2 linked regions of the Homo sapiens genome follow. The protein of the gene in region 2 purifies or fractionates together with the protein of the main gene of each other region. This does not show direct contact. Each region holds a gene or a part of one and is shown on either strand. Other genes may lie near its edges. The genes, in order: ZNF331 and ACOT2.

Region 1 (3,814 bases), on a different chromosome or scaffold from region 2:
TATACACATATATATTATATATACACATATATACATATACAATATATACATATATAGTATATATTATATATATAAACTGCTTACTGTGTGCCATGCACTGTGCTAAGCACTGTGTGTGTAAGTACATTGCATTTCGTTCTCACAGGCAGATGAGACAGGCACAATCATTGTCTATTTTGGAGATGAGGATACTGAAACACAGTGATGCAGTCAGACGGAGGGAGCAGGAGCTAGAATCAGATTTAACAGTTTTGGTCCCCAGATTCCTTGCTGCCAGCCACCATGTTCCACTTGCCTCCAGGCATAATGCCTACAGAAATTTAAAATATGACCTTTTCTCGGCCAGGCGCAGTGGCTCACGCCTGTAATCCCAGCACTTTGGGAGGCTGAGGTGGGCGGATCACTGGAGGTCAGGAGTTAGAGACCAGCCTGGCCAACATGGTGAAACCCTGTCTCTACTAAAAATATAAAAATTAGCCGGGCATGGTGGCGCACGCCTGTGATCTCAGCTACTCCGGAGGCTGGTGCAGGAGAATCATTTGAACCTGGGAAGCAGAGGTTGCAGTGAGCCAAGATCACGCTACTGTGCTGCAGCCTGGGCAACAAAGCGAGACTCTGTCTCAAAAATAATAAAAAATAAGGCCGGGTGCGGTGGCTCACTCCTGTGATCACAAGACTGGCAGGCCAAGGCAGACGGATCACGAAGATAGGAGTTCGAGACCAGCTTGGCCAACAGAGTGAAACCCCATCTCTCCTGAAAATACAAAAATTTGCCGGGTGTGGTGGCGCATGCCTGTAATTCCAGCTACTTGGGAGGCTGAGGCAGGAGAATCACTTGAACCCGGGAGGTAGAGGTATAGCATTTCTTTTTTTTTTTAAGTTGAGATTTTTTTCTTTTTTTCACTCTGTTACTCAGGCTGGAGTGCAGTGGCGCGATCACAGCTCACAGCAGCCTCAACCTCCTGGGCTCAAGCAATCTTCCTGCCTCATCTCCCTGAGTAGCAGGGACCACAGGTGCACACCACGACACCCGGCTAATTGTTGTGTTTTTTCTTAGAGATGGGATTTCGCCATGTTGTCCAAGCTGATCTTGAACTCCTGGGCTAAAGGAATCCACCCACCTCAGCCTTCCAAAGAGGCTGGATTACAGGCGTGAGCCACTGCACCTGGCTCAATAGCATTTTGACTTCTGGTTGTTATAAATTTGATTAATACTCAATCAAAAAAAATTTAAGGCCAGGCATGGTGGTTCACGCCTATAATCCCAGCACTTTGGGAGTCCAAGGCGGGCAGATCACCTGAAGTCAGGACTTCAAGACCAGCCTGGCCAACATGGTGAAAACCCGTCTCTACTAAAAACACAAAAATTAGCCGGTGTGCTGGTGTGCGCCTGTAATCCCAGCTACCCAGGAGACTGAGTGAGGCAGGAGAATTGCTGGGACCTGGGAGGCAGAGGCTGCAGTGAGTCAAGATCATGCCACTGCACTCCAGCCTGGGCAACAGAGCAAGACTCCCTCTCAAAAAATAAAAATAATTTTTAAAGAATTTTTGAAGTTTTGAGCTTGAAATTTTTCCTCAAGTTCTATGTCCTCTAGCATTTCGTTTTTTTAAAGGAGGGCATATAATTTCTAAGCCAGAGGTACTGTCTTATAGAATTAAGGGAAAGAGCCTTGATGGTTGTGAGGGAAGAGACAAGACAACAATACGGAGGAAAGTGGGAGCCAGTCAGCCACCCGTACAAAGAGCATCCCCACAGGGCAGGGAACAGGCACACCCTGAGGTGTTGGAGAGCTTTCTCCAAGAGCTCAGGCCCAAAGCCTCTAGGAAAGAAAGATCTTACCACGAACTTGATCTTCACCCCATTTCCCTGTCACCTTGTTTTTCCTGTCATATTTAACCCCATTTTATGTGCTGCTGGTGCTGCTGGTCTGTGGGCCACGCCTTTAGTAGCGGGTAGAGGTGACAGGGTCCTCTGCCCTTTATCATTCCTGAAAGTGGGTTAGCCTCGCTTTAAGTGCCCGTTTTCTTTTTCTCATATCTAGGTGTTGGCAGTACTGCTTCCCGGGTGTTGTTAATGTGTCACCACCATGAAGCACCTGGTGTCTGGTTGTAGCTCCTCTTTGCCATTGGCAGTCATTGGCACTGCTTACATTCATCACACTGGGGGCTCAAATGGTGCGCGCCTATCACTGCCCCTTCATTTATCAGCTGTTATAATTTAAAGAGAAACTTTGTTTCATCTGCTAATTGCTCATGCAGTGGCACTGTTCATATTGGATAAGAAGGATAAAAACTTTGTTCTTTTTCTTTGTCAGTTTTTATGTTGTATTTTTTTCTTTTCTTTTTTTTTTTTTTTTTTGAGGCAGGGTCTTACTCTGATTCCCAGGCTGGAGTGCAGTAGTGCAGTCTGGGCTCACTGCAGCCTTGACTTCCGGGCTCAAGCCATCCTCCCACCTCAGCCTCCCAAGTAGCTGGGACTATAGGTGTACACCACCACACCTGGCTAATTTTTGTATTTTTTTTGTAGAGACAGGGTTTTGCTATGTTTCCCAGGCTGGTTTTGAACTCCTGAGCTCAAGTAATCCACCCACCTCGGTCTCCCAAAGTGCTGGGATTACAGGCGTGAGCCACTGCACCTAGCCAATTGCCAGTTTTTATAATAAAGGTCTGGTTTCCTAGCGTGTTCCAGAGCTGGCCATTTAACATTTTGTAGTATCATTATGAACTTATAGATTTAAACGTTTGCTGTTTCTCAGTCCTTTGCAGTTAGCCTCCTTATTGATGCTCAAGTTCTAAACTTTTCCTTATTGTTCTTCTAAACTTTTTCACATTTTTTATTAAATTTAGTCTCGTAAATTATCTTTTTTGTTGCTTTTGAATGTTGTATTCTTTTACCCAGTTGCTTTTTTTTTTTTTTTTTTTTTTGAGACGGAGTCTTATTCAGTCGGCTCACTGCAACCTCCACCTCCCGGGTTCAAGCGATTCTCCTGCCTCAGCCTCCCAAGTAGCTGGGATTATAGGCTCACACCACCATGCCTGGCTAATTTTTGCGTTTTTAGTACAGACAGGGTTTGTTTGTTTTTGTTTTTTGTTTTTTGTTTTTTTGATATGGAGTCTAGCTCTGTCACCCAGGCTGGAGTGCAGTGGCACAATCTCGGCTCACCGCAACTTCTGCCTCCCGGGTTCAAGCGATTCTCCTGCCTCAGCCTCCGGAGTAGCTGGGATTACAGGCACCCACCACCATGCCCAGCTAATGTTTGTATTTTTAGTAGAGACAGGATTTCACCGTGTTGGCCAGGCTGGTCTCGAACTCCTGACTTCATGATCTGCCCACCTCGGCCTCCCAAAGTGCTGGGATTACAAGCGTGAGCCACCGTGCCCAGTCTGTTTTTTTGTTTTTGTTTTGAGACAGAGTTTCATGCTTGTTGCCCAGGCTACAGTGCAATGGCATGATCTCGGCTCACTGCAACCTCTGCTTCCCAGGTTCAAGCAATTTCCCTGCCTCAGCCTCCCGAGTAGCTGGGATTACAGTCATGCGCCACCATGTCCGGCTAATTTTGTATTTTTAGTAGAGACAAGGTTTCTCCATGTTGGTCAAGCTGGTCTCGGACTCCCGACCTCAGGTGATCTGCCTGCCTTGGCCTCCCAAAGTGCTGGGATTACAGGCGTGATGAGCCACCACTCCCGGCCCTTTACCAGTTACTTTTAATAATACTACTGACATATACGTGTATCAGTTTCAGAATGCTTTACACACAGCCATCCAACTGCATATTGTTTTGTTACAGTACTTCTATATTTGGTTTTCCAAGTA
Region 2 (4,257 bases):
CACTGCTAGAAGGAGCAACATATTCATCTGCTCTGGGCAACAATTTGTCTTAACTTACAAAGTTAAATATGTTATTCTACTTGTACATGTGCACCAGGAGGCATATTCCTTATAAGAGGCCAGATGAGCAGTCTGGATTAATTTAAAAAAAGAGCAAAGTCAACTGGAAACAGTCCAAATGTCCATCAACAATAGAACAGATTAATAAATTGAGGTATATTTCCAGCAGTCAAAGTGATTGAACTACAGCTACAAGAATCAACATCTATCAAGATATACAAAAGAAAAGAAAAAAAAAGAATCAACATGGATGAATCTCCAAACCACTGTTGAGTGAAACAGTCAAACCCTAGGAGAACACATTCAGTATCATTCCATTTAGATACAATTCAAAAACTAGGCAAAATAAAATATTAAGGTACATAATCTAAGTGGTAATACTATGAAGAAAACCAAGAGTGATACACAGAAAGTCCAGGATACTGGAAAGAGAGGAAAGGGCACAGGGGTCTGTGGGACGTTGATGGTTTGCGGGTATCAGCACTGAACTATGTCTTAAAAGTGTTGCCTGTAAGGTGTTTGCATTTTTTTTTTTTTTTTTTTTTTTTTTGAGACAGTGTCTCGCTCTTTCGCCCAGGCTGGAGTAGTGGCACAATCTTGGCTCACTGCAACCTCCACCTCCCGGGTTCAAGCGATTCTCCTCCCTCAGCCTCCCGAGTAGCTGGGATTACAGGTGGCCGCCACCACACCCAGCTAATTTTTGTATTTTTAGTACAGATGGGGTTTCACCATGTTGGCCAGGCTGGTCTCGAACTCCTGACCTCAGGTGATCCACCCGTCTCAGCCTCCCAAAGTGCTGGGGTTACAGGCGTGAGCCACCGGACCCAGCCTGCATTATTACTATTTAATTTTGTGTGAAACACAAAACCTTTAATGTAAATGATAAAAATATCAGTAAGTGGAGTCATTCAGAATGAGTAGCCTTTTGAGTCTGTCTCCGTTGAGTAAGTGCATTCTGTTGAGTGCACTGGAGAGGAATTTGTGCTCTTCTATGTAGCAGTCTTTCTTTTTGTTTCTTGGTGGTGCACCATTAAATGGATTCATTCACCAGTTAAAGGACATTTGGGTTGTTTCCAGTCTTTGGCTACAACGAGTAAAGTCACTATAAACACTTGCCAGAGGTTTCTGGACGAACAGGTTTTCATTTCTCGTGGGTAGATACCTAGGAGTGGGATTGCTGGGTCACATGTGTGGTAAGTATATGTTTAACTTAAACCATCCAACTGTTTCAGGAATAGCTTAGTTTTGCATTTTGTTTTGTTTCTTCCCAAGAACCTGGGCCCTTTCCTGGGATTGTGGACATGTTCGGAACTGGAGGTGGCCTGCTGGAGTATCGGGCTAGTCTGCTGGCTGGGAAGGGTTTTGCTGTGATGGCTCTGGCTTATTATAACTATGAAGACCTCCCCAAGACCATGGAGACGCTCCATCTGGAGTACTTTGAAGAAGCCATGAACTACTTGCTCAGTCATCCCGAGGTTAGTTCTTCTTTCAGATTTATGGGCTATGATGTATCAGGTCTCTTCTTAAATGGTCTGGGTTTTCACAGAAGTTAGCTCATTCATGACAGCCATTCCCTACCCCAACACACACTACCTTTTTTAGTCACTTCTTATAGACAGTTTCTTTTTTTGAGATGGAGTCTCACTCTGTTGCCAGGCTGGAGTCCAGTGGTGCGATCTTGGCTCACTGCAACCTCCACCTCCCAAGTTCAAGTGATTCTTGTGCCCCACCCTCCCGAGTAGTTGGGATTACAGGCACCTGCCACCATGCTTGGCTAATTTTTGTATTTTTAGTGGAGGCGGGGTTTCACAATATTGGTCAGGCTGGTCTTGAACTCCTGACCTCAAATGATCCACCTGCTTTGACCTACCCAAGTGCTGGATTACAGGCATGAGCCACTATGCCCAGCCTAATATTTGTATTTTTTTTTTTTTAAGTAGAGATGGGGTTTCGCCATGTTGGCCAGGCTGGTCTCAAACTCCTGACCTCAAGTGATCTGCCCACCTTGGCCTCCCAGAGTGCTGGAATTACAGGCATGAGCCACCACACCTGGCCTCTTATAGACAGTTTCTATTCAATTCTATATTACTATATTTCCTGCTAGTAAAGAGATTCGTAGTTGTTATTATGCAATTTTAAATTCCAGTATTTTTTTTTTTTTTTTTTTGAGATGGAGTCTTGCTGTGTCACCCAGGCTGGAGTGCAATGGCATGATCTCGGCTCACTGCAAACTCCACCTCCCAGGTTCAATTGATTCTTCTGCCTCAGCCTCCCACGTAGCTGTGACTACAGGCACGTGCCACTACTGCCCGGCTAATTCTTGTATTTTTAGTAGAGATGTTTCACCATGTTGGCCAGACTGATCTCAAACTCCTGACCTCAAATGATCCACCCGCCTCAGCCTCCCAAACTGTTGGGATTACAGGCGTCAGCCACCACTCCCGGCCATGAGATGATGTACTTGTTGATGATGACTCAGTTTAGTTATGACAGTGGGAATGGGTGGCTCAGGTGGGAGACAGAAAAAGATCATGGGAGATACGAGATTAAGGAACTGAGAAACCAGAGAATAATTGATAGATCTTCCACATGGTTATCACCAAGAGTGGTGATGGACAAATTGTGGAAAGGAAGAGATAGAGGGGAGGTAAATTCTCAAAGTTGCAAATCTGGGTAAATGGTAGAACCTAGATTCAGACTCAGGTTCAACTAACTTCCAGGGTGGACACAACTCACCATATTCCACTGTTTGTGGAATCATTCTTCTTCTTTTTCCTTTGTCCCTTTCTCAGGTAAAAGGTCCAGGAGTTGGGCTGCTTGGAATTTCCAAAGGGGGTGAGCTCTGCCTTTCCATGGCCTCTTTCCTGAAGGGCATCACGGCTGCTGTCGTCATCAACGGCTCTGTGGCCAATGTTGGGGGAACCTTACACTACAAGGGCGAGACCCTGCCCCCTGTGGGCGTCAACAGAAATCGCATCAAGGTGACCAAAGATGGCTATGCAGACATTGTGGATGTCCTGAACAGCCCTTTGGAAGGACCTGACCAGAAGAGCTTCATTCCTGTGGAAAGGGCAGAGAGCACCTTCCTGTTCCTGGTAGGTCAGGATGACCACAACTGGAAGAGTGAGTTCTATGCTAATGAGGCCTGTAAACGCTTGCAGGCCCATGGGAGGAGAAAGCCCCAGATCATCTGTTACCCAGAGACAGGGCACTATATTGAGCCTCCTTACTTCCCCCTGTGTCGGGCTTCCCTGCATGCCTTGGTGGGCAGTCCTATTATCTGGGGAGGGGAGCCCAGGGCTCATGCCATGGCTCAGGTGGATGCTTGGAAACAACTCCAGACTTTCTTCCACAAACACTTGGGTGGCCACGAGGGGACAATCCCATCAAAAGTGTAAATTTTATTTGATCATGTGGCCTCTCTGTTGCTAATCTCTCCTGGAAACATCTGCCACATTTAGTGTGTGTATGTGTATTCATTCTTTTGTTTTTAATAACTAAAGTTTTTTCCCCTCATTATTAAAATGAATTTACCAGTAAGAATGAGTTTTTAAGATTTTTATAAACTGTATACTTTATCAGTTTGGGAAGGGAGTAACTGTAGGAAACACAAGAAGTGGAAAAAGTCTCCTCTTCCTATCTCAACACACAACTGATAAGGCTTTAGTTCTGAAAGGAAAAGTGAGTAACATCAATTAACAGTGTCTGGTACGTAAATGGAGTTCAATAATTATTTGCTGAATGAGTATAAGTGAGCCAGGCGTGGTGGCTCACACCTGTAATGCCAGCACTTTGGGAGGCTGAGGTGGGCGGATCACTTGAGGTCAGGAGTTTGAGACCAGTCTGGCCAACGTGATGAAACCCCATCTCTCCTAAAAATACAAAAAATTAGCCAGGCGTGGTGGCAGGCACCTGTAGTCACAGCTACTTGGGAGGCTGAGGCAGGAGAATTGCTTGAACCTGGGAGGCGGAGGTTGCAGTGAGAAGAGGTTGCAGTGAGAAAAGATTGTGCTACTACCCTCCAGCCTGGGCAACAGCAAGACTCTGCCTCAAAAATTAATTAATTAATTAATTAAATGATTACCTACTGTGGAAGAAAAGCACATAATATAAAAAGTGTATCAGATTTGAGTTCCTCCTTTAAGAATGGAAGTTAACATCTTGCCTATAAACTGATTACTAGTTAGATATAAAACT

The links.
Region 1: the proteins of ACOT2 (region 2) and ZNF331 purify together in Homo sapiens (co-immunoprecipitation; one large-scale study listed by IntAct). This does not show direct contact.

Annotation. Positions count from the first base shown.
Region 1 is NC_000019.10:53,572,597-53,576,410, forward strand, and holds part of ZNF331 (zinc finger protein 331), read left to right. Parts: intron 1-3,814. UniProt on the Homo sapiens protein: May be involved in transcriptional regulation. May play a role in spermatogenesis.
Region 2 is NC_000014.9:73,572,056-73,576,312, forward strand, and holds the end of ACOT2 (acyl-coenzyme A thioesterase 2, mitochondrial), read left to right. Parts: intron 1-1,332; coding exon 1,333-1,535; intron 1,536-2,230; coding exon of another isoform or gene 2,231-2,314; exon of another isoform or gene 2,315-2,352; intron 2,353-2,852; coding exon 2,853-3,458; 3' UTR 3,459-3,600; downstream 3,601-4,257. UniProt on the Homo sapiens protein: Catalyzes the hydrolysis of acyl-CoAs into free fatty acids and coenzyme A (CoASH), regulating their respective intracellular levels. Displays higher activity toward long chain acyl CoAs (C14-C20).